Linked DNA regions of Homo sapiens: region 2 is linked to region 1. Evidence: fine-mapped expression QTL. A gene starts in region 1. The other region holds a variant in brackets. All regions are shown on one strand. Distances are between the middles of the regions.

Region 1 (8,000 bases):
AGCTTCCTGCCCCAGAATGCTTCTCTTCACCTGCTTTTGGCCAATTCACATCCCTTCATTTGACAAAGTGAGGCATACACTACTCTAGCCCCTTGCTACTCAAAGTGTGGTCCCCAGAACAGCAGTATCTGTATCATGTGGGGATTCGTTAGAAATGCAGACATTCAGGCCCCACCCAAGGCCTACCGTAACAGAATCTGCATTTCACCATGATCCTCACATGGTTTGGATGCACCACTCCACAAAGGCAGGGATTTTTGTCGGTTTTGTTCAATTCAATATCCCCAGTACTGAGAACAGTGCCTGGCACATAGTAGGTATGCAATCACTATTTGTTGAATAAACACCTAACTGTTCTGATTTATCCCCAACTCCCTTCTCCCTCTAGCCAGCCATTAACTCCCATTTCCATTACAGCTTTACTTGTCAACAGTTGCCAGCCTATCTGCAGATGTTTTATGTTTGTATGTTAAAGACACAAACGGGCCAGGGATCTGCTTTTTTTTTTTCTTTCCTCCTTTCGTGTACAGCCCCTAGTGTACATGATTCAGCCCAGCACATATAGAACTTTGAACACAGAGATAACACTATTAGCCTCCATGAATCTGCTCTTAATGCCACAGCATCCCTCACTTTCATTTGTGAAATAAGGATGATAATAGAACCCATCTCACTGGATTATTTCAGATTGACAAAGATCATGCTCATAAGGTGTTTGGCCATAGTGCCTGAAGCTCAGTAAGGGCTTATTAAAAGCAACTGCTGTTGGTAAAAGTAGTGCTAACAATATGATACCACTTTGTGTTTCTCTCCCTTTGTGAGCCTATGAATACAATCCTGTTCTTGTGATTCCCTACATCCAACCCCCTACAGAATGCAAAATGAAACAGGAAAGCACATGCCGGAAGCTCCCTATTTCTTGGTCTGTTTAGGATAGATAGAGGGAGGGCAGTGGTTAGAGAGTAAGGGGAAGAATCTCAAGCTATGAGAAAAATCCAAATATTAACTGGTGAAAATGATGGCCTTCTGCTCCAGAGTGGAACATGGACACACCAGAGTCAACAGGCATTTCTCTTCCACGGGTTGTACAGAACATCAATCTTGCTGGTTTTTTCCTAAGAGAAAGGCTTGGGGGCTTAGCCTGCCCTTAGAAGGTAGCTTTTCACCTTATCCCACAAGTGGTGATCACTGAGGCAGGCATCTGGGCCTGTAGCTATGACAGGTGTGGAGCAAGGAGGCTGAAACAACCTCTGTACCCACTTCCCAACCTGGCCCTGTTGCAGCCTTCCTCCTTTTCACAGGGGCTGCTAAGTCACTCTGTGTCACCTCCCTCCCTCCCTCCCTCCCTAGCTCTTTCACCCAGGAATTTTTCCAGAATCTTTAATATGAACCACATCAGGGGAGGGTAGTAGAGGGAGAAAGGAAAAGGGAGAGGGAGTAGTCAAGAGTACAAAATGGGAACTAGGAAGACCCCCATTTGGGTCTTTAGGAACCACTGCCAGGATGCTGAAATTACCAGAGTGACACTTCCTCACCCAAACACCAATTGGTCCCCAAGACTATATCCCAAACTGGTAAGAAGCAATCAAGAGTCCCAAAAAGCAAACTGCTGTCTGAGCCAGATAAAGATGGGCAGCGGTTACTTCATGTTGTCTCAACAAAGACCCTGAAGATGCCAAGTCCCCAGCCAGACCAAGCTCATGAAGGCAAAAGGTAGCTTTGATCTCACTCAGAACTTTGAAAGGTTTTTCTCCTCATCCCCCTTCTCCCCTTTCCCTTTCTAAAAGAATGTTTCAAGCCAGATGTAAGATATAGGCCTCTCTGTTCCCCCAACCAGAACCCCCCCTCCTTGCCTTCCCCAACACTGCAGAGATTTAAAAAAAAAAAATTCAAAAGAGATTTTTCTGAAACAGGAAAACAGGGGGTGGGGGTTGGGATAAGGAGAGACGGCATCTTGAAATGATAGGAATCTGCAGCCCAAGCTGGCGGGCCCCTCGGCCAGCTACCCCTCACCCTTCAGCCAAGATTCCAAGTCAAGAGGAGAAAAGCCACAGGGTGCAAGGAGAGAAGAGACCACATTTCGGGGAGGGGGGCTTGCACGGGAAGAAGAACGGAGTAAGGAAAGGACGGGAGGCACTGCCTGGTGGAGAGGGGCAATAGCCTAGTCCAAGAGGCCAGTTTGATTGTGGGGTGAAGAGGAAAGACTGAGTCTTTTCTAGGTTCAACTCTCCCTGCTTTGCCCTCTCCCCATGGTGGGGAAGAAGGGAAAGCAGCTCCTTCTCCTACGGGAAGGTGATGAGTGCCATCCAAGGAGTAGGGGGCAGGGAGGATTCTAAAAAGAACAGACACGAGACATCCAGTGGATCTGTAATGCCTTTTTGCCTCATCTGCCCTCTTGTGAAGTGTCTGGAGTCTAGGGCCTGCAAGAAATCTGGGGAGGGGGTCTCTTAGTATCTTGGGACTCCGCAGCCCTCTGGCTCTTGGAGGGGAGAAATGGGAGATGGGAAAGAATAGGAAGAAGGGAGGGAGGCAAAGTTTCCTAAGTGACATCCTCAAAACGGTGGCTGAAGACAAATGCCTAGATAATGCAAACCCATGCGTTTTGTTTGTTTTAATTGTGGGAGTTAATGGGGTAAATTTTGCCTCGATTCCATTTCTAAGCCTCGGCTGGGTGCTGCTGCCTCACCAAAGCCTTCCTGTGGTATGGGTGGGCTAGACTAGCGAGCTGCCCCTTTCTCCACCTCTCAGAGGGCGACCTTAGGCGATTGGGGCCCTGGCGAAGCTATTGCGGGCCCTGGAAGGTTATTCGTTCCTTGAACTCACCCTGAGGGAAACTCGGAAGGTAGCTTCTGCCCTAAGGGGCTTGAGCTGAAATAGAGGGGGTACAGCACGTGGAGGCCTAAGGAGCCGCGACCACCGGGCATCCTTGCTCCGAATGCCCAGCGCCTTTCTCACCAGTCGTGTAAGACGCGGCGCCTCACCCTCCCGCCACCCCGCGACTTCAGATTTCAGTGACAGTCCTGCCCGAATCGTCTCCAACCCGTCGAAGCAACAGCCTGGTCCCGTGAGCAGCCAGTCCCTCCAGGCGCCTCCGGCCTCTCCTACCAAGCGCCTCACCCGCCCAGCCTGAGAGCCACACTTACCACCAGGACGTGTCTACGCGGGCCGGCAGCGTCAGCAGCAGCAGGAGCAGAAGGCAGGCAAGACCTAGGCGGGCCGAAGCCCGGGAGCCGTCGGGGGCCGCGGGCGACGGCACAGGGACCGGGGCGCTGGCGCGCCGAAGCGGGAGCTGCGCAGCTTCCTCCGCACCACCCGGTCTCAGCATAGCTCCCCGAAGACTCCCGCCGCGCAGCCCGGAGGGGCGTGGACGGGGCACCTTCTGGGGGTACTCAGGCTGCTCCTACCTCACCCCCCTGGGGGGCCATGGTGTTCGCCGGCGGCTGGGGACCTAGGATCACCTGGGGTCCAGAGCCCGGGAGGAGGATCCCCGAGAGGGGCGCAAGTTGCGATGTCCGGAAGCCGACGACGGCGTGCCGAACCCGGGGTCTGGGGCGCGCTGCCTGAGGACCGGGTGCGGTGTCAGGGGGTCTGCGGCGCTGAAGGGAGCTGCGGGCCTAGTGTGCGGACAGCCCCTTCGGCCGCGGGCTCTCATTGGACGGGACGGGGCGGGGCCGAGGCCGGGGACACGCGCGGCCCTTAGGGCGGCTCCGCCCGCGCCAAGCCCGGGGCGCTCCGCGACGCCCTAGGTGTAGCAGCCGCCTCCGCCCCTCGGGGCTCCCGCGCGCCACCGCGCTGCACCCCCACCTGCTCCCGCACGCTGCGACGGGACGCCGCGGCTCCCTCCTGCGCCCCAAGCGCCCAGTCCCTGCCGACACCGCGCCACCGGGTCCTAGCGCCCTTCACTCAGCAGCCCCACTTCTATGGGTGACGGCCAGGCTGGCGGAGCGGGAAGGGGATGCGGGCACTTCCCTCCTGTCCCCAACCTACAGTGACACCGGCGCTGAGCACGGAGGATGCACTCATTTCCTCCATCCTTGCGCTTCTGTGAAATGGGTAGAGTCCCTGCCACCGGGAGTTGGAGGTCTTAACTACCTTTTCAACACTGCCTACAGGAGCGCCGTGGGCAGTCGGCTTCTAGCAGGGGATGCTTTCAGCTAGAGCTCATCGCCCCTGCTTCTTCTGAGCCACTGCACCCCCCACCCCCAATGCATCACGTTTAGACCTGGCTCCTGCTTGCCCGGCCTGCCCGGCCCGGGTGCTTTTCTTTACGGACCGGGAATCGACTGCCGACGCTAAGGGGGCACCTGCGGACTCCCCGCCCCTTACTCCTGGGCTCAGCGGAGCTCAGTCTCTCCCCGCTCCCCCTCTGTGCCTCGGTCCTCCACCCTCTCGGGCGGGGCTGAGAGTATGAAAGAATCAGAAACAGCTGGGAGGTTTTCCCGCACCAGAGGCCAGGGTGGGGGTCCTGCCGAGAGAGTGGAAGCCCTGGAGCTTTTTCCCTCCTTCGTCTTCTCGCCCTGCCTCCTCCCCACTGCTCCTTCACCCTCCCTCCGCCCGCACAGCGCCTGGGGGCGTGGTAAATAGGGAAGGGGTGGGGAGGTGCAGTCTGCCGAAAGAGACTCTCCTCTCCCCACCACCCCAACCCTCAAACCTCCCAGGATAGCAGGTACGGGCCCTGCGGGCACTGTGGCCCTCCGTCAGAAGTAAAATTCTTTTTAAAATCCTGGGCTTAACTTCGAGAGTTCAGAGTTCACCTGGGATCTGGCTCCAGTCGCTTCTTCAGCCTCAGTTTCTCCCACCTCGCAGGTGTCTTTCCTGCCTCCTCATATGATTTTAAAGTCCTGGGGTAAACAACTTACTAGTAACTGCCGATGCCCCCAACTCCAAATTCACTGTCAGTCTTTGGTTGGGGGTGGGGGGCGGTGGTGGCGTTAGAGGTGCCTCCCGAGTGTAAGCAGATGGGGTGCAGCTGGCTGCAGACATCTCAGAGACAGAGATAGTGGAGAAGGTTTCAGAGGAACCTTTAACCTCTCTCCCCACCGCCTCCGGGTCCTAGCGCCCCTCACTCCGCAGCCCCAACTTCTGTGGGCGGGCAGAGTGGGAAGGGGCTGCAAGCACTTCCCTCCTGTCCCCAACCTACAGTGACACTCCTTTACCCCCACTTTCTGTGGTAAGGTGATGAGTGCATTCATTAATTCAACAAATACTTATTTCCTACCACATGCCAGGACTGTGCTAGGCACTAGGGACCCATTGGTGAACAGTCTATGCCCTCATGGAGTTTGCCTTCTATTGCAGGAGGATAGACCATAAACAATAAACATCAGAAGTAAAACAGAGTATGTTAAAAAGTAGTAAGTGCAGTGGTAAAGAGAGCACAGTCAAGGGGATGGTTACAGTTGCAACTAGGATGATCAGGGTAGGCCTCATTAAGGTGACATGCAAGCAGAGATTTGAAGGAGGCAAGGAATCAAGCCAGGCAGCTTCCTGGTGAAGAGCATCCTAAGCCGAGGGCAGAGCCCGTACAGGGACCCAAAGGCAGGAGTGGGCTGGTGTACGAGGGTTATCGAGAAGGCCATCCAGCTGGAGCGGAGTGCGTGGAGGAAGAGAATTCAGATGAGTCCCTGAGGTGCTCCAAGTCATGAATGGGAGGCAGTGCTCCCCACTTGGGTGGAAAGTGGGGGCTGGGCTGGAGTTGGATGGGAGTTGGAGAGGACTGAATACAGACACTTCTCAGGGCCGACTTCCTGGCACAGAAACTGGGACCATATCCTTTGTGGCCAACAGGCTAACTTATTTTCTTCCCCTTCTCTCCCTTTCTTTTTGTCGGGTGGGCTCCAGTTGGCCTGGCTATTTCCTTAGAAAGGCACAGACTCTGTGCTTAGTTTTCCTGAGAGGGGCAGGTGGGAGAGGAATGAGCCCAGGCTCCTTCTTGGCTGGGCCTCTTTCCTTGGACCACTCTTTTACCTCCTCCCAACCCAGCCCCATCCCTACACAGGGCAGTCTTGGAGCTCCAGCAGCCTCTCCCAGACTCCCCTGTGTGTTTAGACCTGGGTGTGACTCTGGCCCTGTGTTTATTTCTACACAGGGCCTGGGGTTGGTGGAAAGCGCAGGGAGGGGGAAAGTTGGCTGAAGATGATCACATCAGCCCTAACCTAGAGTGGACTCGCCCACATGGGCCCCCAAATCACTTCTGAGGCCCCTTCTTTGGCCTGAGCTGTCTTTACAGTCAAGTGGGACTGTGTCTTGGCACAACACAGATGCTCAAGTATTAAAGCATGTTTTTGAGGCCCAGGCTTGGTGGCTTACGCCTGTAATCCCAGCACATTGGGAGGCCGAGTTGGGAGGATGGCTTGAGCACAGGAGTTAGAGACTAGCCTGGTCAATACGGTGAGACCCAAAAAATTTTTTAAATTAGCCAGGTGTGGTCATGCACACCTGTGGTCCCAGCTACTTGAGAGGCTGAGGCAACAGGATTGTTTACGCCCAGGAAGTCAAGGCTGCAGTGAGGCATGAATGCACCACTGCACCCAGCCTGGGCAACAGAGTGAGACCCTGTCTCAAAATAAATAAATAGAAATAAAAAAAATTTTAAAGCATGTTTCTGAGCTGAAGGGAGGGGTGAGGGGGGTACAGCCAGAAACATCAGCAGCTCTGAGAGGGAAGGAAGTGGGTGAGGGGACTAGACTTCTCTCTAAGGTTTACAAGTCACCTCTGCCCCCAGAGTGGACAACCTAGGATGAGGCTTGGCTCCTTCTGCTTCTTTGTCCCCTCTCCTCTGAGTCCCCAGTTCCCCGGGAGGAATCCCAGGCTGCAGGAGCCAGCTGACTGCAAGAGCTGCACTCAACCACTTAACTAGAGAACAAATATGGAGCCAGAGAAGAGGTTTTCTGGGATCTGCCTCTTTGGAGCTTCAAATCTCAAAATAAACTTCCAGTCTCAAGGTCCTAGACACTACTGGAGAGCTCAGCTCCTCACGCAAAGGCTTGTTGTGGGGCTGCCAGGCAGAGGGTCAAGGCCAGAGGCTCAAGCTAGCTCCTGACCTGCATCTTCATTTTATTCCACACTCTCACTCTCAGTTCTGGGAGCCAGAGGGAGGAGTCACTGATCTCAGAGTTAAGTTCTGGTCTGTAGAACCCTGCATGGAGTCAAGTCAGCACTTACTGAGCACCTGCTGTGTGCCCAACACTGGCCAGGGTATCCTAAATAACAAGGAGCAAAAGGCATTACTCCCAAGGCATTTTCATGGAAATATAATAAAACCGTCTGTGGGTGGCACACTAGGCTCTGCTGAAGTTCAAGGGTGCATGCTGCAGACATAGTGAACAGTATCAGTAGAGACCTGAGGAAGAATCCCAGGTCCCCTGAAAGCTGCCAGATTACCTGGGGCCTCCAGCAGGACAGCTTCCACCCAGCCAGCAGAGTCAGGTCCACCCTCTTCCCCATAGTGGCACTAGAGCCTCCTCCTGTCCTCTCAAAAGTGGGTGCCCAAAGAAGAAGGGTCCACTGTCACCCTTGATGTCACCTTATGCTCTGCTCTCTGGTGGGACAGAGTTAAGATTTCTTTTCACTCTGTTCTCAGCTATGCGTGGCTGAATGATTTTGAATTTTTGCTGGCCCTTGGATGGGAGGGGAGATGAGCTAAGGGGAGCTGGGGTGTGGGTAAACAGCTCTTACCCCACCCTGCTCTATCCTCCAGAAGGCTCCCCTTCCCTGGGCCCCTTTGGCGATGACCTTCTCTTTTTCCCGGTGGGTGGGAGGTGGTGTGGATGGTAATGAGCAGAGAGAAAGGCCAAGAAGGGGCTGGGGGGAGGTTTGGATGGGAGTCAAGGAATTCCTGAGCCTGCTGCTTGCACAAGGGGCCCTGAGACGCCTTTCCTGAGATTTCTTTGCAAACCGAGGCAGGTCTTATTTGAAATAGGGCCAGGTTCACACAGGTAACTAATGCCTCACCTCTTGCCCTGCCACCCCATGCAGGTGTCTGGGGAAGTAAAGGAAGC
Region 2 (12,340 bases), 56 kb after region 1:
CTAGTATTTATGTGTTTAAGTGTGTGTATGTTAAACATGTAAAGGGGTAATGTATCTATACAGATATATGTATACTTCCCATTTAAGCAAAAGTTAATTTGGTTTTACAGATACAGATACCAGGTTCTGGCAGCTTGGAGAATAAGTGTAACAATTTGGTAAAACTTGTATAATTCTGACTGACCTATAATATTACAGAGTGAATTTCAAGTTATTGCTTTTTGATTACAGAATAAAAAATTCATTCTCTTGCAAAACTTTTATACAGAATGAGTAACCATTTCCTATTCAAGTAACAGCAATCAGAATCAGAAGTTCCTTACACAACAGTAGATGCTTGAGACATTTTTTGAATGGAGATGTGATTTCATTCTGTTCAAGAACTTATGCAGGAAACTGGGAGTGACTTAATTTTTCAAAAGTACAAGAAAATCAGCACCCCAACTGCTTAGTGCTCAGGAGGGTTTCTCAAGGGCTCTATAAAGCTCAGCTTGTGGTGAGTTCACACCCACCTTTAGAAGGATTCCCATTCTACTTATGCAGCCTTGTTTCAGAACACAAAGCTTGTATTAAAACATTAAAAGAGGATTAAAAGCAGTGTTGGTTTTTAACATTCAGAATTCACAGAGGATCTCATTTTCTGTAATTAAATGATCTATTTTGTGTTTTTTGCTGCAGAATCACATTCATATGGCAGTCATATTTCAGGCACTTTTAAAACATGTTCATCTGGAATAAAAATCTGCATGAACCACTTCTGCATAATTCAAAATGAGTGTTGAGTGATTCTAGTTCTCAAATAGATAGCAAATCACCACCTGGTGATTCGCTTTCTTCATCACAACATGACGGTGACTGCTGAGCTTGAGACATCTTTGAGGTGCCTTTCTGGCTTCAGTAAAAAGATGTGAGCCATAAAAATCCAAACTACTCAGTTTCTACTTAAAAAAATACAAAATGGTGAAATATACTAAATGTATTATACAGATGGTTTCAGCTACTATCAAAATAAATAACATAATCTGACTCAGAAGTCTGACTGAGCTTTTGGACGAAATCTGATGGAATGTCAAACGTGGAGACTCCCTCCTAGGGACTAGCTGCTGGTAGGCAAAAGTAACTCAACATCCTTACCATTTGCTACAACAGTATTGGAAGAGCAGCTGCTGGCAAGGTCTTCTGCAGTGGTCAAAGAGGCTGCCTGGGAATGAGTTTTGGTCAATGGAGTGGTAGCAGATGGAGAAGGGGTGAGGCCAGGTTTCTTGGGTGGGATGGGTGGAGGGTTTCCTCTCTCAGCTCTGGGGATGGTTGGGGACTTGATTCCTGGAGACAGGGGGCTCAGGGGACTGGACACTTTCCCTGGAGTAGGTGAATGGCTTGTGTCACCTCTTGGATTGGCAGTGTTGGCTAGATTTCGATAGTCTGTGCCAAAGGGAGAGCTGTTGGGAGAGACTGGCTTGATTGGCCCTTGTTGGCTAGTGAATCTGGAGAGCACCTGAGTGACTGTGTTTCGGGCCAGCTGCTTGGCGGCAGAGTTGTCTATGAGGGTGGGGGATAAATCCCTGGATGGAGGGCTCTGTAGGCCACTGGCTTGTTGGTCCTGATCTGCTTGGGACTGAAATTTGTGGCGAGCTGCATGGAACCGTTGGTTGATCCCTACTTGGTACGATGACTGGTAGCCAGGGCTGCTAGCTGATGACCCCAATAAACGCTTAGTGAGTACCGGCGAAGAGCAAGGAGAGGATGTTAGAGAGGAGGAGGCAGTGCTGCTGGGAGACAGTGAGCTCCCACTGGAAGAGAGGGGACTGGGCATTGGGACTGGAGTCTCAATCCCCACAGGACACCCACCATTCTCCACTGGTTTCTCTTGGGCCAATGCCACAGATTTTTCCCGTGGAGGCACCTGGTTTTCTACATTGTTGCCTGCAGTCAGCTCCCTGGTAGTTTGTATCTCTGGGTCACAATGGCCATTGGTTTTTGCATATGAGTAAGCAGGAGTGGCAGGACCAGGCAGCCCAGTGTTTGTCATCTTGGCTATGTTGCTCCCATGGGTTCTTTCTGCTGGAAAACTCTCTGTTTGGCAAAACACAGACATTAGCATGAGAGGCTCAGTTGCTGTGCCTTTGGACACGGTTACTGGTTTCTTCAATTGCTCATTAGGGCTACTGTGCTGGTGGGAAGCCTCTAGGTCCTTCACTATCTTCTTTAAACTTTCCATTTCTTCTTTCAGGGTTTTGGTCCGGTTCTCTTCTCGGTTCAGTTTTGCTCTCAGTTGTTCCCTTTCGATGTCAAACTCTGATAACTGCTTCTCTACCTGGGCCTCAGTCTGCAAGCCTCTCTTTCTCTCAGCTGCCAACTCTTCTTCCAGTTTACTCACCCGGCTCTTCTCCTTCTCCAATTTCAGGCTCAGCTCTCCTGCCTTCTGTCCTTCCTCGGCTGCCTTGTTGGTGGCTTTCTTGCACTCAAGCACTAGCATGGATGAGAGCTGCTTGTGGCGGGAGCGCTCCTCTTCCAGCTGACTAGAGAGCTTCTTCTGTTCTTTTTCAAACTTTTTCACTTGGGATTTTTCAAATTCCAACTAGAAAAAAAAAGAAAAGAGAGACATACTGACAAACTGTGATCAAGTAGACTGTCTTCGTTAGCTGTTCTCTGGTATACAGGATTAACATGCACATCACAGTGCTTAGATCAAGTATTTCTGAAATTTTAGAACACCTAACACAAAAAATGCACACACTATGATTTAATCTTTCTTTGATGATTTGGGAGGCACTTCTAGTTCCCATACTGTCTTGCAGTGATTAGTGGGAATATGACGTATCTTTGTGTTTCACGTATGTGGAGAGCATCAGAACCAATCAAAACAAGATAACAGAAAGCTGTATCAACCACATTTTGTGATGAATGTTGCTGAAAACAAACATTTTAAAGTTTCAGCAATAATTTTCTTGGGTCTCAGAAACAAACACACACAAATAGTTGCATTTGAATCATACTTTTTTTTGGAGACTGAGTTTCACTCTTGTCTCCCAGGCTGGAGTGCAATGGTGCAATATTGGCTCACTGCAACCTCCGCCTTCTGGGTTCAAGCGATTCTCCTGCCTCAGCCTCCCGGGTAGCTGGGATCAGTCATGCGCCACCACACCCGCCTAATTTTGTATTTTTAGTAGAGACAGGGTTTTTCCATGTTGGTCAGGCTGGTCTCAAACTCCTGACCTTAGGTGATCCACCCACCTCGGCCTCCAAAAGTGCTGGGATTACAGGCGTGAACCACTGTGCCCAGCCTGAATCATATTTTTTACACAAATATAGCCTGTTTTAATTGTCTTCCCAACCCTATTTGAGGCAGAGACTCTGCGTGAGAGGGAAAGGGTTGAAGAAACTCAGTGTTTTTCAAACTCTGAGATCCATTAATGGATGGGGAAACTAACTGAGCCACGACTAGAATTTTAAAAAAATATATAAACAGAAAACATCAATGTGTACTGTAGCAGTAGGGGTTATATATGATTTCATGAGATTTTTGTTTCAGGCGTAACTGTGTATGTCTACATATACTGGGTTGTGACATAAAATGTCACTTCTTACTGGGGGTTCTAAGTCAAAAGTTTGAGAGCTACAAGCGCTAAGTTACCATTCCCCAAAGAGTGTTCTACGGAACAATAATAATCCCACAGTGAGGGATCTATGCCAATAAAAGATTTTATAAAACCATGGATTTGCTAAACACAGAATACCCTATCTTGTTCTTGAAGACTCACAATGTGCTTCTGCATACTAAAGATCCTAACAAAGTTAGAAACCTGTTTAACTTTGCTTAATCCAGTAGTTCCTAAACTTATTTGACCACAAAGCCCCTTTTCTGAACAATACCAGTTGGCATCCTGCAGAATAATCTTTGGGAAATGCTGTTCCAGGCAAATGCTACTGTGAATCCCTCTACCTTAATTACCTGTTGAGTCAGCCTCTCTCTTTCCTTCTCTAGCATGTAGGTGACATCATCTCCTTCAGCCGTATCCTGTGCATGCCGCTGCCTTTCTTCCTCAAGGTCTAGGATCACCTTTAAAGAATTTTTTAAATTTCATTTTCAAATATCAAGGAGTCACATTTATTAATACAACCAATAATAAGTGCCAAATCAGGCACCTTAGATAGTTCCAGAGATCAAACAAACAAACGAATAAATGAAACCCAGCAAGGGCTATCAAGGAGCACACTGCCTTACAGTGAAAGACATGAAAGCTCTGTGTTAAACAGTAAGATACTTACTTTACTTGAAGTATGTAGAGAATGATATGCAAACAGAGAGAAGAGAGCAACTAATTAGCTAGAGGGGTTGAGGAGGTGTCGAGAATTAACAGAAATTCCAAGAAACTGCAGGCAGTTTGGTGTTACTAGGGGCCAGGTGTAGGTGATGGAGCAAGACAGGACCACAGAAACCTGAAAGCTGAGATTTTCTTCTCAATTCTCAAATCACCAGAGGCACCAAAGAAGGAGCCTGAAATTCAACATTTCAAATAGGTGACATTCTAAGTGTGCCTTGTTTAACTAATAATATACATTTTTATATAGTTAGATAAGAGGTGGATAGACTCTCTTGACTTCCTACTGCATGTAAAAAGGCTCAAATATAGAGACCTTAAATGGAGATTTTTCATACGCCCTTTTATTTAACTTGCCTACCCCTATTTCACTTACCCTGGTGCCAAAGGATTAAGCCCAATTTTAAGGAGAAGACAAATATATTTATTTTTCGAGACAGGGTCTTGCTTTGTCACCCAGGCTGGACTGTAGTAGTGCAATCATGGCTCACTGCTGCCTTGGCCTCCCGAGCTCAAGAGATTCTCCCACCTCTCAGCCTCCCAAGTAGCTGGGACTACAGGTGTGCGCCACCACGCCCAGCTGATTTTAGTATTTTTTGTAGAGATGGGGTTTTGCCATCTTGCCCAGGCTGGTCTGGAACTCCTGGGCTCAAGTGATCCACCCGCCTCAGCCTCCCAAAATGCTGGGATTACAGGTGTGAGCCATCACACATGGCCAAGAATACAAATTTAAAGAGACATTTTTCACATAATCCCATCTACAACTGCAAATATTCTGATTGCTTAGTAGCTTCTGCTCATGCTTCAGAAGTGCCTTGGCCCAGACCTCCAGGGTAGAGCACTCTTGTCCCAAAGGCCATTTCTTAGTCTTCTCACTAAAAATTTTTATGAGTGAAGAGAGTAAATTTTCTGGGACATGAAACCTGTCTATAAAAATAAAAATGAGCTCATGCCTGTAATCCCAGCACTTTTGGGAGGCAGAGGCAGGAGGATTGCTTGAGCACAGGAGTTTGAGACCAGCCATTTATTTCTCCCTCTCCCTCTCCCTCCCCCACCCCCTTCCTTCCTTTTGAGGAGACAGGGTCTTACTCTCACCCAAGCTGAAATGCAGTGGCATCATCTCGGCTCACTGCAATCTTTGCCTCCTAGGCTCAAGTGATCCTCCCACCTCAGCCTCCTGAGCAGCTGAGACTACAGGCATACACCACTATGGCCTGCTGATTTTTTGTAGAAATGGGGTGTCGCCATGTTGCCCAGGCTGGTCTCAAACACCTGGACTCAAGTGGTCCTTCTGCCTCAGCTTCCCAAAGTGATGGGATTACAGGTGTGACCCACTGTGCCCAACCCAAAACCCCATTTCTACAAAAAAGTACAAAAATTAGCCAGGCATGGTGAGGTGTGCATGTAGTCCCAGCTACTCAGGAGGCTGAGGTGGAAGGATCACCTCAGCCCAGGGAGGTCGAGGTTGCAGTGAGCCATGATTATGCCGTTGCACTCCAGCCCAGGCAACGGAGTGAGACTTTGTCTCAAAAAAAAAAAAAGAGGCCAGGAGTGGTGGCTCATGCCTGTAATCTCAGCACTTTGGGAGGCCAAAGCAGGTGGATCACCTGAGGTTGGGAGTTCGAGACCAGCCTGACCAACATGGAGAAACCCTGTCTCTACTAAAAATACAAAATTAGCCAGGCATGGTGGCACATGCCTGTAATCCCAGCTACTCGGGAGGCTGAGGCAGGAGAATCGCTTGAACCCAGTAGGCAGAGGTTGTGGTGAGCCAAGATTGTGCCATTGCACTCCAGCCTGAGCAACAAGAGTGAAACTCTGTCTAAAAAAAAAAAAAAAAAAAAAAAAAAAGAAGAGACTGGTGCTGTGGTGTATGCTTGTAGTCCCAGATACTAGGGAGGCTGAGGTGGATCACTGGAGCCCAAGAGTTCCAGGCTATAGGGTGCTATGATCGCACCTGTTAATAGCCACTGTACTCCCGCCCAGGCAACACAGCGAGACCCTGTCTCTCAAAATAAATGAAAGAAAAAAAATTTGGCACATTTCCTTTTTTTAATCTAATTTTTCAATTTAATAGAAAGACATGCTTTTGGCCAAAAGTGGTAAGTCTTATCTTCTCCCTTTTGGGAGTCCTCAAAAATTACAGAAATGGAATAAAAAGACTAAAACCCCACAAAGGAGAGAGCCTCTAGCAGAGAAAAAATTTTAATAATATTTTGAAGAAGAAAAGAGGCTGGAGTTGTGGTAACTACTTTA[C/G]TTTGAAGGAGGGAAGCTGTTTTGCCTTGCAGAGCCCCAAAGAGATGGAACCTGGAGGTGGCAGGTACTGCAGAGGAGAGGTGAAATGTAGAATAGAAAACAGGAGAACTGGCTCAAAGCCTGTTTTTTTGTTTGTTTGTTTTGTGTTTTTTTTTTTTTTTTTGAGACAGTCTTGCTCTGTCACCCAAGCTGGATTACAGTGGTGTGATCTCAGCTCACTGCAACCTCCACCTCCTGGGCTCAAGCTATTCTTCTGCCTCAGCCTCCCGAGTAGCTGGGATTACAGGAACGCCACCATGCCTGGCTAATTTTTGTATTTTTAGCAGAGATGGGGTTTCACCATGTTGGCTGGCCTGGCCTCGAACTCCTGACCTCAAGTGATCTGCCTGTCTTGGCCTCCCAAAGTGCTGGGATTACAGGCATGAGTCACTGTGTCTGGCCTTCAAAGCCTGTATTTTCAGAATTATTTGTCCCTTCACCCTGATTCCTGCACACAGACCATCAGCATCTGGCCTCTGTCACATCTACTATTCCCAAATCCTGAGCCTGTCACATTCAAGAAATAGTGTGACAGGCTCAGGATTTGGGAATAGTAGATGTGACAGAGAATGGTGGTGGGAAAAGAGGATTAAATTTGTTCTGGGTAAGGGTTAAGGAGAGGAAAGGGAGGCGGGGTGTAAGATAACTAAATCTGCACCTATATAAAAGAAAGTAATATAAATGTCTAAAATTGATAAAGCAAGAGAGAACAGTGCAGTATTTAGAAATATGGAGGTTAGCTACCAAAGTGAATGGCTAAAAGAAAAAACTGGTTGCCTGTGAATACTGGGGAGGATGGGGAATGAGAAGAGGTGGAATAGAAAACTGTTTTTCATTGTAAGCACAATGACCATGTAATTTATTATTCAAACCAGAACATTTCTGACAGTCAAAGGGAATATGGTTAATAACTAAGCCAAGGTGACAGGCATAAGCTGAGACTATGAGCACCCTAATTATAAGCCTCTAGGTACTGTTTGATTTCTAACAAAGTCAGTCTTCTACTTTGATAAACCACTTAAACTTGAACCTGGGAGGTGGTGGTTGCAGTGAGCCAAGATTGTACCACTGCACTCCAGCCTGGGTGACAGAGTGAGACTTCACCTCAAAAAAAAAAAAAAAAAGAATAGATAGGTACTTTGTTTCAAAAATTTAATATTCACTTAAAACATTTAGCACTGCAATATAGTATTAAGAAATTTTGAATTATTTTTAACTTCTTCCTCTCTCCAATCACCTAGAAACACAAACTGTCCCTAGTACACCTTCCATGGGCATGAAAGCTAGCCCAACTAGCTTCAACACAACTCAGTCACCTCATGGATGAAGTGGAAATAAAGCCTGCCTATTAAACAAGAATGTTGTGAAGATTTTTAGAGAATTATGTAAAAGCTCCCCCTCCACCCAATTTAGGCAACTAACTCCCACCCACTGATACCTTTTAAATTGGAGTGTAAATGTTTTCAGATTACTTCATTCTAACCAGAGGTTAAACATTTTTGGGTCTTGGGTAACTTGGAGAATCTGATTAAAGCTATGGAAAAAATACATTTCCTACAAAAATGCATAAACTCTGAACATTCTGTCTATTTTCTGGGGGACTGTGGAACATCTGAGGCCTATCCATGGTTAAGAAGTTCCACTCTGGCCTTTCATTTGGCTTCTGTGAAGGGAAAGAAAAGATCACGGGCAAGATCCAGAGCCTAGAAAATGTATCAGATGCAATTTAAGAAGATGGCTCTAATGCTGATAACCATAAAAGTAAGGTCCACCAAATTTTGCAGCTGCTAACCCTATTTTTCAGATGAAAATGTTTCCTACCAAATGCACTGATAACTGCCTTGTTGGCATAAATCTAAACTGACAGTGTTTTAAAAATGAAGATTGTAGCCAAGCATCTTTTACAGGCCAAATTTGAGGAGTAAATGACAAGATGACAAGTTGGTGAATAAATTCACAAGCACTAGAATTCCAGTAAGATGAAGCAGAGGAAAGCACAGGTTTGCCTTCTTAGGGCTTGTTAGAAATGGAAACACACACACACACTCTTTACTAATAGGGTAGAACAGCTTTAAAGTAAATACTGTAAATAACCATAAGGTTTGCCTTCCTATTTTAGGGCTTGTTAAATATGGAAAACACACACACACACACACACACACACCCCTCACTAATAGAGTAGAACACCTTTAAGGTAAATAAACCAAGGGACTGTTTATGGTTTCATGAGCAACAAAATGCAATGAAACTCAAAACTAGGAATAATAGGAATAAATGAAAATAATCTATTGGCTTCTGTGTTTATCCTCAGGTAAATTCTTTCTCTCCCTTGGATATAGCATGCCTCAAATACCTGTTAATCTTTTTATTTATCTCTTAAGTAAGCAAATAGAGAACACTCCCGTCAGCTACAAGCTTGGCCAAACCCCAAAGTTTGAATGATCAAGAACTGAAAAAACATACAAAGTGTTTTGGAGTGACATATCAAGAAGAAATGCTGTCTTAAATAACGTGTCTGGCACGTTCTCTAAACTTAACATTTGCAATAAGCTGTGTTTTCTTTTTTATCTCCTGGCTCTTACATAAACTAAGGGGCTTTTTGATACCCGTGAGATGTCCCAATTGAATTACTGTGAAAAACTGGCAGCTGACAAGAAAGTATCAGGCATAATTTATAAAGACTTCACAAAGATTTACACATCAACTGAGGTGAACCTACCTTTCGGTGCCTGCTCTCAGCAGCAGCCAGCTGGGACAGCATGCGCTCCTGCATGTTCTTGCACTGCTTCATCACAACCTTAAGAATAGAGAGTGGATTTGTGCAGACTGGCTGCTTTTCGCCATCATTTTTCTCCTTCAGTGTTTCAAAATCTCTCTGTAGAGCCATTAAAGGATCACTGATGTTATATTTTCCATAGCGTTCTTCAATGAAAGTATCTCTGTGTTGGGCCTGGGAAAGAGGAAAAAAAATAAGCATCTTGCTTTTTAAAACTACTGAGGAAGGGGGATTTGCTATCCAGTGGTTATACATTAAAGGTTGTGGTATTAGTATAAATGTAACCTACTAATTACAAGTCAGATTGAGCCATCTAAAGAAACAGCATTAGAAAGGTGGCATGGTATATTAACAAGAACAAATACTTATAAAGCACTATGTATTAGACATTGTTTTAAATATTTATAGTCAGATTAACTTGTTTAAAATTTACAACCCTGTAAGGTAGTGCTATCATCTCGATTTTGCTGATGAGAAAACTATTCCTGGTTACTCATCTAGCAAGCTGTCTGAATTGGGATTTAAACCCAGGCAACCTGGCCCCGAAGTCTGTGTCCTTAACCTCTGTGCTTACTGACTCTGCTTATATCTGCTTATGAATGCTTATATTACCAGCAGGTACATCTTATTTTTTTCCGTGTTATGGTACTAGCATTTCTAAAACATGTTAAGTATGATAATTTTATGAGTTTATATATTTAGAGACCTAACAAAATGCCAGCAGATATATAAAGTGTGCAAAATATAAGCAGGATCACATTACAATCTAGGACTACTTGTGACCTGTACATATGAACCATTACTCAGTTGTTGATGGGTCAAGGAGGATGGAGGCACCTCATAACCAGACATGCAGACAAAACCTCTTCCACCTGCTGCCAAATTCCACCCCCTCTTCTTGTCTCTGGTTGTTACTTTCCATTCTCTTTTCTGTCTCTTTCAAGGCTTGATGAGCCTTGGGGATGAGCATGTAAGAAAGGGATGCAAGCTGGTGCCTGGAGTCTGGTCAAGGACGTTAGCCCTGGGTACCCAGTTGGGAGTATAAGGATCAGGAAGTGGGTGGAAAGATATTCCTAGGCTTCCCTCTTTCCTTATCTCTGTAGGAAGAGCTTGAAGAACTCCACATGAGCATCATACATTACATGTACATTACTTTTTACTTATTACACAGATATTTAAAAGTTTCTTGAGATATTTTACAATGAAAAATGAAGTGTTAACACAGGGTTGAAGAAACTAAAAAGTCACAGCAAAGTACTATATAATTTAAGCTTTCAAATTAAATCTGGTTATGAAAACTACTATTATTTATCCATTTTAAAAAACTAATCAGTAGTCATGTTTTCTTAGCACTGCCATCCACAAATAGGAGCCTGTTTAAAAAAAAGGGAAATTTGCAATTCATTGGCTATGCTTTAATTTAAAGGAAACTTTAAGAAAATAAAGCAAACATGGGTTTTTTTTTTAACACAGAAGTATTTCAGTGCTGAAAATCTGAAGACTTCTTCTTCATTGACTGTCCAATTTAGGCCCCAGGAATCACTTAGCCTTATGGTAAAATTTTACGTTCTTATCAGCTGGCAAATGTTCAAAGCAGTTAGAAATTCTGGGTTTTACTTCTGGCTTGACTGCAGCCATCTTACTTTATGACATTACTGGAGTATTTGGATGTTATTTGTATACTGGAAATATGAAGAGAGAAATCCATTTCTTTAAGTTACTAATAACTATCTTTCTAGCCTTATGGTGTGTTGTGTGTGTGTGTGTGAATTAAAAGTGGGGGAGGTATAAAACACAGAGTCTAAGATGAAACTCTACTTTTTTTTTTTTTTTTTTTTTTTTTAGATGGAGTCTCGCTCTGTCGCCCAGGCTGGAGAGCAGTGGCACAATCTTGGCTCACTGCAAGCTCCACCTCTTGGGTTCACGCCATTCTCCTGCCTCAGCCTCCCAAGTAGCTGGGACTACAGGTGCCCACCACCACGCCCGGCTAATTTTTGTATTTTTTAATAGAGACGGGGTTTCACCATGTTAGCCAGGATGGTCTCGATCTCCCGACCTCGTGATCCACCCGCCTTGGCCTCCCAAAGTGCTGGGATTACAGGCGTGAGCCACTGCGCCTGGCTGAAACCCTACTTTTTTCAGCTCCAAGTTAAAAAGGAAATTCACAGTAAAATTTCAAAATAACCTCCAGTCCATTTAGGATGGAGAAAGAAAAGATCAGCTCCAGAACCAGCCATTCTTCTTCTTATTTTAAAACATGGTGAATAGCCGGCCGCAGCATCTCATGTCTGTAATCCCAGCACTTTGGGAGGCAGAGGCAGGAGAATCACTTGAGCCCAGGAGTTTAAGACCAAACTGGGCAAAATAGGGAGACCTTGTCTCTACAAAAAACAAAAAATTAGCTGGGCATGACGGCATGTGCCTGTAGCCCCAGCTACTTGGGAGGCTGAAGCAGGAGGATTGGTTGAGCCTAGGATCTAGGCTGCTATGAGCTCTGATTATACCACTACATTCCAGCCTGGTTAACAGAAGAAGAACCTGTTTCTAAAAATACATAAATAAATAAAACATACTGAAAGTAAAACCAAAAAGCTAGTTGTATTTTAAAAGCAACAGTGCCAAACAACATGGGACTCATCAATGTTTCCCTTTTACCATGTTTCTTTAAATTCAGCTATAAAAACCTGAAATTGATTACCTGTAACTCACTGAAAGTATCAAATTTTTTTTTTCTTTTTTCTTTTTTGTTTGAGACAGGGTCTGGCTCTGTCAACCAGGCTGCAGTGTAATGGTGTGATCACAGCTCACTGCAGCCTTGACCTCCTGGGCTCAAGTGATCCTTCCACCTCAGCCTCTTGAGTAGCTGGGACTAAAGGCACATACCACCTCACCCAGCTATGTTGTTTTTTTTTTTTTTTCCACTTTTTTAGGCCATGTTTAGAAAAAT

What was found. PIP is the estimated chance that this variant, and not a neighbour inherited with it, causes the effect.
Region 2: its variant is fine-mapped to the expression of WNT2B in subcutaneous fat (GTEx, PIP above 0.99).

Annotation. Positions count from the first base shown.
Region 1 is chr1:112,504,588-112,512,587 of GRCh38, reverse strand. WNT2B (Wnt family member 2B) reads right to left here and starts at 3,623. Exons shown (of 5, transcript NM_024494.3): 1 at 3,144-3,623. The coding sequence starts at 3,325. RefSeq lists enhancers at 2,388-2,887, 3,812-4,355 and silencers at 2,987-3,281, 3,275-3,384, 3,445-3,524, 3,585-3,694, 3,705-3,834.
Region 2 is chr1:112,446,169-112,458,508 of GRCh38, reverse strand. It overlaps CTTNBP2NL (CTTNBP2 N-terminal like), which reads right to left. Exons shown (of 6, transcript NM_018704.3): 4 at 9,337-9,567; 5 at 3,953-4,060; 6 at 1-2,578. The coding sequence ends at 1,097. Among named protein-coding and RNA genes, the nearest start is that of MIR4256, 9.5 kb to the left of the region's middle. The variant C/G (reference allele first, on the strand shown) is at 6,579.